Linked DNA regions of Homo sapiens: region 1 is linked to region 2. Evidence: fine-mapped expression QTL. A gene starts in region 2. The other region holds a variant in brackets. All regions are shown on one strand. Distances are from middle to middle.

The links.
Region 1: its variant is fine-mapped to the expression of LINC02406 in caudate (GTEx, PIP 0.99).

What each region holds. Positions count from the first base shown.
Region 1 is chr12:39,063,985-39,066,900 of GRCh38, forward strand. No RefSeq gene overlaps it. Among named protein-coding and RNA genes, the nearest start is that of LINC02406, 80 kb to the right of the region's middle. The variant T/C (reference allele first, on the strand shown) is at 1,338.
Region 2 is chr12:39,144,223-39,147,138 of GRCh38, forward strand. LINC02406 (long intergenic non-protein coding RNA 2406) reads right to left here and starts at 1,248. Exons shown (of 3, transcript NR_183477.1): 1 at 1,146-1,248.

The DNA of each region.
Region 1 (2,916 bases), 80 kb before region 2:
AATAAAACTGCCTTAGTATTTTACTTATTGTTTCAAAAAAGATAGCCCTCTATATCCATTTATTATTATAAGGAATTCCCCATATTTATCCATTCTTTATATTTAACCTCTCTTTTCAACTAAGCAGAGGTACACATACTGTGGCTTATATAAATAAATATTATCTTTTTAGAATGTGAGGGGAAAGGGTTGGTCTAGGCAAACTATATATTTTGTATGTATGAATAGATGATGGAATTCTAACACATGCATTCCAACATTTATTATATGAGCTATGTACTGACAGGAATTATAAAACCATTTTATATTTCCTCCTTTTACTTCCTGTCATACTATTCTTTTTATAACTAGAAAATATCTAGAATCTTTTTCTTCTTTTGTGCCTTTCTTATGTAGTTCTTTTAAACAAAATAAGCCCTCAGTGCAACTATCTCCTCCCTGAACTCTTATCTAATTCTTGTCAGAATTAAAATCTCCTTTTGCATTCCTCACACCTCCATTTGGCTTTTTTTTTTTCTCTTCATTCTCTTAGTTGTCCTACTTAGCCCTTTTGAGAACAGGTAGTATGTCTTTTATTCCATCTTATTCCCAATAATAACCATCAAGTGAATATTGAGAAAATGTAATTTTTCTATATACTTGGAGAAAACACAAGGTGCAACAGAATTTGTTAAATATCTATTATAAGAATGCTTTTATACATAGTAATAGAAAACTGAGTCCTTCCACTCTCTACTTTCGGTACATGATAATTCACAAATCATCGGAGAAAGCCCTACAAATCTGCTTAACCGGAGCGGGGTGAGGAGATAGAGGATGTATTTACCAAGATTCCTGATCTGCAGCACACACAGGAGCATTGGATGTCAGAGCAAACACGACTCCACAGGCTCGCACTCAGTCAGAGAGGATGTCAAGGCAACACTCATACCTCAGCCTTAACAACCAGACCTGCAGGCAGCTGGAATATTTTTCTTAGTCGTCTTAGACAATGCAATACAGGGGAAATGCCTTCTGAGCAAATCTGAGTTCTAGTCTCATTTCTACTATTAAATGATAAAGACCAGTTTCTTCAGGTTTCTGTGACTTGTTTCTCTAAAAAGACAGACTGAAGAGGATAGAACCTGATGGCCTTTTTTAGCCCTTCATTCTTAATGTATTATCCCTCCATGTGTTGCTAAGCCATTCGAAAGAAGTTGATTATAAACCTAGCTCAGCCGCCAAATCGACTGTTTCTGTGCACATGTGCTCCAACTTGACCTTCTCTTCTGTTATGGTGGATGAACTGCCTGTGCTCCTGAGACGAACTCTTCCAGCAATTCACTGGACTCCAGCCT[T/C]TCTCCCCTTTTTCTTATACCATCTTTCATATCATCATACAACACACATTTTTATCTCATCTTCAAAAAATAACTTACATTCCCTTTTTTGACCTCATTTCACTCCATTTCTCTCTTCCTTAAAATTAACTTTTTCAAAAGAATCGTTTACTGTCAGTCTTTTCCCTTTCTCTCTCTGCTCTCTCTTGAAGATACTCATCTCAGGCCTTAACCTCCCCAAAACCCTACTGGAACTGCTCTTATCAAGATGAACAAAGAACTGCATGTTGCTATAACCCACGTTCAATTCTGAGTCCTCATCAGCACAGTTGATGGAATTATTTCACATCCTCTTTTCTGAGACACTTTCTGCATTCTTTTCAGTATGAGTGAAGAAACTCCATATTTCTATAATTTCAGTCCAATTGTGTCTTGCTATTTCTTTGCATCCCAAAAAGGTATTTACAGAGCAATGGACAAGTACTCACTGGTATTTACTTATTGAATATTTATTGTGCTTGAAGATGTGAAACATGCAAAATTGAGCCAGACATTAGTTTTGCCATAAGGAGGTTAAAATACGGAGGGAGAAATAAGACAGTGAAGTGAATGAATATGATGCAAGATAGAAAATGTAATTTTCTTAATATAACAGTAAATATTTATATTGTAAATATAAATATTATTTTATAATTTTTAAATACATGTTATAAATATGTATAAATAAGACTTTAAAGAAAAGTATATATTTGGTGCTCCTGGAGTTCAGAAGAAAGAGAGATTATTTCTATGTGAGGTTTTCAGGCAGCCTTCATGAAGAAGGTAGATGAAGCATTGGAAGAATTTGGATGTACAGAGACAGCAGAGAAAGGCATTCAATAAATGGAAGAAAGAGGAAACAGTTTGAATAAATGTAGAAAGGAGGAAAAGTATAGGACAGGCCCCAGAAATAGCAGAGACAGAGGTCTCTTCCTTGTGTTCAGCATGCTGTGAGAAAATATCTTTAAGATTTTTTAAAGCCCTTTTGTCTGGTTTAGAAGGCCTATCAGACATCAAGCTAAATTATTCTGTGGTCTCAACAAAGGCTTTCATAGCCACACACTTATTGATCTTTACCTACAGTCATTTCTTTCTTTGGGAATATTTTACTGGCTGGAGAGACTGAGGATGAGAAACAGTTTGATATTCCAACTCAGTCAGTCCAAGAACTTCTATCTTCTTTCTAAATTCTTTTTTTCAACTGTACTTTTCTTTGTTTAGTTTATTTCTCTTCTCCTATAACATTATACACAATTTAAAGAGGTCAATATATTCAGTATTCTGCCCAGAAATCTTCTTTGTCAGATACACAAGTTCATTAGGTACATTTTCTACCTTCCAAATTATTGGAGGCAATTGTACAAAACACGTGTGGCCATATTTTCAGCTTCCATTAACAATTTGTTCACCATCCCACAAGCTTTTACTAACTTTTTACTATTTTTACAGCCTCTGCCCATTACTGGGTCTTAAAGCCAATGATAAATGATTTATATTTATGTCACCAATGGCATTGCATTTCTAACGTGCCATTGTAACACATTTTATGTATTAGTTATTA
Region 2 (2,916 bases):
CCATCATTGCAAGCTGTCAGTGTAATTAGTCATAACATAGGCTGTTTAATACCTCTTAGATTTAGTTTTCTGAAAAGGGATCGTTGCATCTTCCACAGACTGTGGAACATAGAAAAATTCTAGCGTTCAGCGAGTCAGTGCATCCCTCTGAATAGTCACCAAGATACTGTTTTAGTTTGGATATTTAAATTATGTCAGGTATAGATCCCTAAAATTGGAGATGAAACAGTGAACATGACTTTCTATTTTCTTGTATGGTGGTAAGAACACTTAATATGAGATTACCCTCTCAACAAATGCTGAAGTGTGCAATACAGTAAGGAGTATCAGATGTGGGACAGTCAAAAGAGGATCTAAAACGCAGGAGACGGAGGTTAAGCAGCGGTTTCCCGGGACTGGGTTGTGCTCCCGAACGTTCGCAGGTTCCAGGACCGACCGCTCACCCCGGCGGCAGCCGACCGGGTCCCCACTCAACGCCGAGCTACCCCGGCTCAGCCCCCTGGCCGCGAACTGGGGGTCCAAGTGGGAGCGGACCTTGCGCCACCTGCCCCGCTCGCGGGAAAGGCAGTAGGAGGGAGGCGACTAGGTCTCTAGCGACAGAATCCGCACCTGCCCCACGTGCCCTGGCTGCAAGTCGCGACGCCTGCAAACAGAGGGCCCAGGGCGCCGGGACTGGGGAGGGGCGGGCCTGGGCGGCCCAGCCGGTCCCGGAGAGGCCGCCACAGAAGCCGGCCCCGAGCCCTGGGGCACATTCTGGGGAGGGGGGTGGGGTTCCGCGGCCCTTATCACTACAGCCCAGGAGAGAACCCGGTTTTGAGCGTGGTTTCCCCGCCTGCCCCCATTTGCACGCCGCGACTCTCTTTTTTAAAACAAGAGTGGAAGAGAAAGGCGCCAACTTATGTCCCTCTTGCTCTTCGGGGCTTCATGAAGGGACCTCCTACCCACACCCACGCCCAAACCCGCCACAAACTCCAGAGCGGGACAGAGTCCGCGACCTTCAGACGACCCCGGCGCGAAAGCGCGCGCCCACTCGGAGTGCCCCGAGCCAGCGCCGGCGAAGCAGGTGGATTCGACCGCCCCCAATTCGTCCCGCTTCAGCACCCGAGTCACTCCCGTTCCCGCCTCCTGGTGCTGGAGGACCTCACCCAGCACCGAGGGGCACGGACAAAACGGAGCGGGAAGTGCCCAGTTCTTGACGTCGGATCCGTGTTCGCGGCCGGCTCAGGGTCCGGCGCTGAGGACGCGTGTGCGGGGTGGTCCGCCGCCCCGGAAGGTCGCGAACTCGCCGCCTCCAGCGCCGGCGCCTTAACCCCGCCGGTCCCGGCGCCAAAGTCCCGACAGTGGCGGACGCCGGCACCAGGGGCGATGGAGAGCAGGCGACACCGAGGGTGTCCATCCGGTCCACCCAACCTGGTGCAAGGCTCTGGGAAGCGCGCTGACAGGATTTCAAGGCCAGAGTTAAAAAGGCGCGTTCCGTGGTAACATTTTAATCCACTCACTGCCAGCTGCTGCCACTTCTCTTGCTACTGCACACGGAAAGCCCTCTTCCACCTCTCTCCATTTCCCCAATTCTATAATACCTCCATTTAGTTTCATGTTTGTTTTGCTTTTGCATATTAAAAGATTTATAATAATAGTTCTGACGCACAAGGCTTAAGAGACAAGCTATATAGACTGCAATCCGATTTTATAGGCTTGAATCCACCGTCGGTTGGTTATGAGATGCTTAGAAAATTATTTCCATTCTCTGTTCCTCATTTTCCTCACATGTACAACATGGATAATAACAGTACTGATCTCATAAGGTTATTTGGAAGATATGGGCATATAGCACAAATTGCCTGATGCCGAGTAAGCACTCAGAGCTCTCCTCCTCACAGAACTGTAATGTATTACAACTGAAAGAGCTTTAAAAACACGATTTTCTGAGGCTGAGCGCAATGGCTCAGGCCTGTAATCCCAGCACTTTGGGAGGCCGAGGCGGGCGGATCACCTGAGGTCGGGAGTTCGATACCAGCCTGACCAACATGGAGAAATTCGTCTCTACTAAAAATACAAAATTAGCTGGGCGTGGTGGCACATGCCTGTAATCCCAGCTACTCGGAAGGCTGAGGCAGGAGAATCACTTGAACCCGGGAAGCGGAGGTTGCGGTGAGCCGAGATCGCGCCATTGCACTCCAGCCTGGGCAACAAGAGCGAAACTCCGTCTCAAAAAAGAAAAAAAGAAAAAAAAAAAACTAAACTAAACCCACGATTTTCTATTGTACTGCGAATTTGTCGATTAGGGATGGGTGGGAAACTTCTGTTAGTGATCGGACTTTCAGGCTGGGCAACCTGGGTTGCAGTTCTACCTTCACCTCTTACAAAATGTGTGACCTTGGGCAAGTCACTTCACCTTTCTGCACCTCAATTACATCCTCTGTCAAATGAGATAATAGCTCTTGTTAGTGAGGACTCAATAAGCTAACATTTGCAATTAATTTAGAATATTTACTATCAAATGTATATGCCTTTATAAAATGTAGAATTTACCTTTTATAAGGAGGTAACTTGTAATTCAAATTCTATGCAAATCCATCAGAATCTCAGCCTTATTACAAACACTGCTAGCTACATTTGCAATGTACTCTAACCATTTTCATATTCTTTCCTTTCAACAAGCAATTACAAGTTAAACATGATAGTTAACATTTTCAATGACTGTAAGTAATAATTTTGGGAAAAATACTGAATACCGAATTATACTAGTTGAGGTATAAGATGTTAGTGACAATGTTAATTATTGTTTCCAATATTACTTATAAAATATACATTTTATACTTTTGAGGAATCAATTCAATATTCAGTGAATGTCTCCCTAAGCCTCATATTCACATTCTTTTTTTAATTTTAATTTTTAATTTTTGTGGGCATATA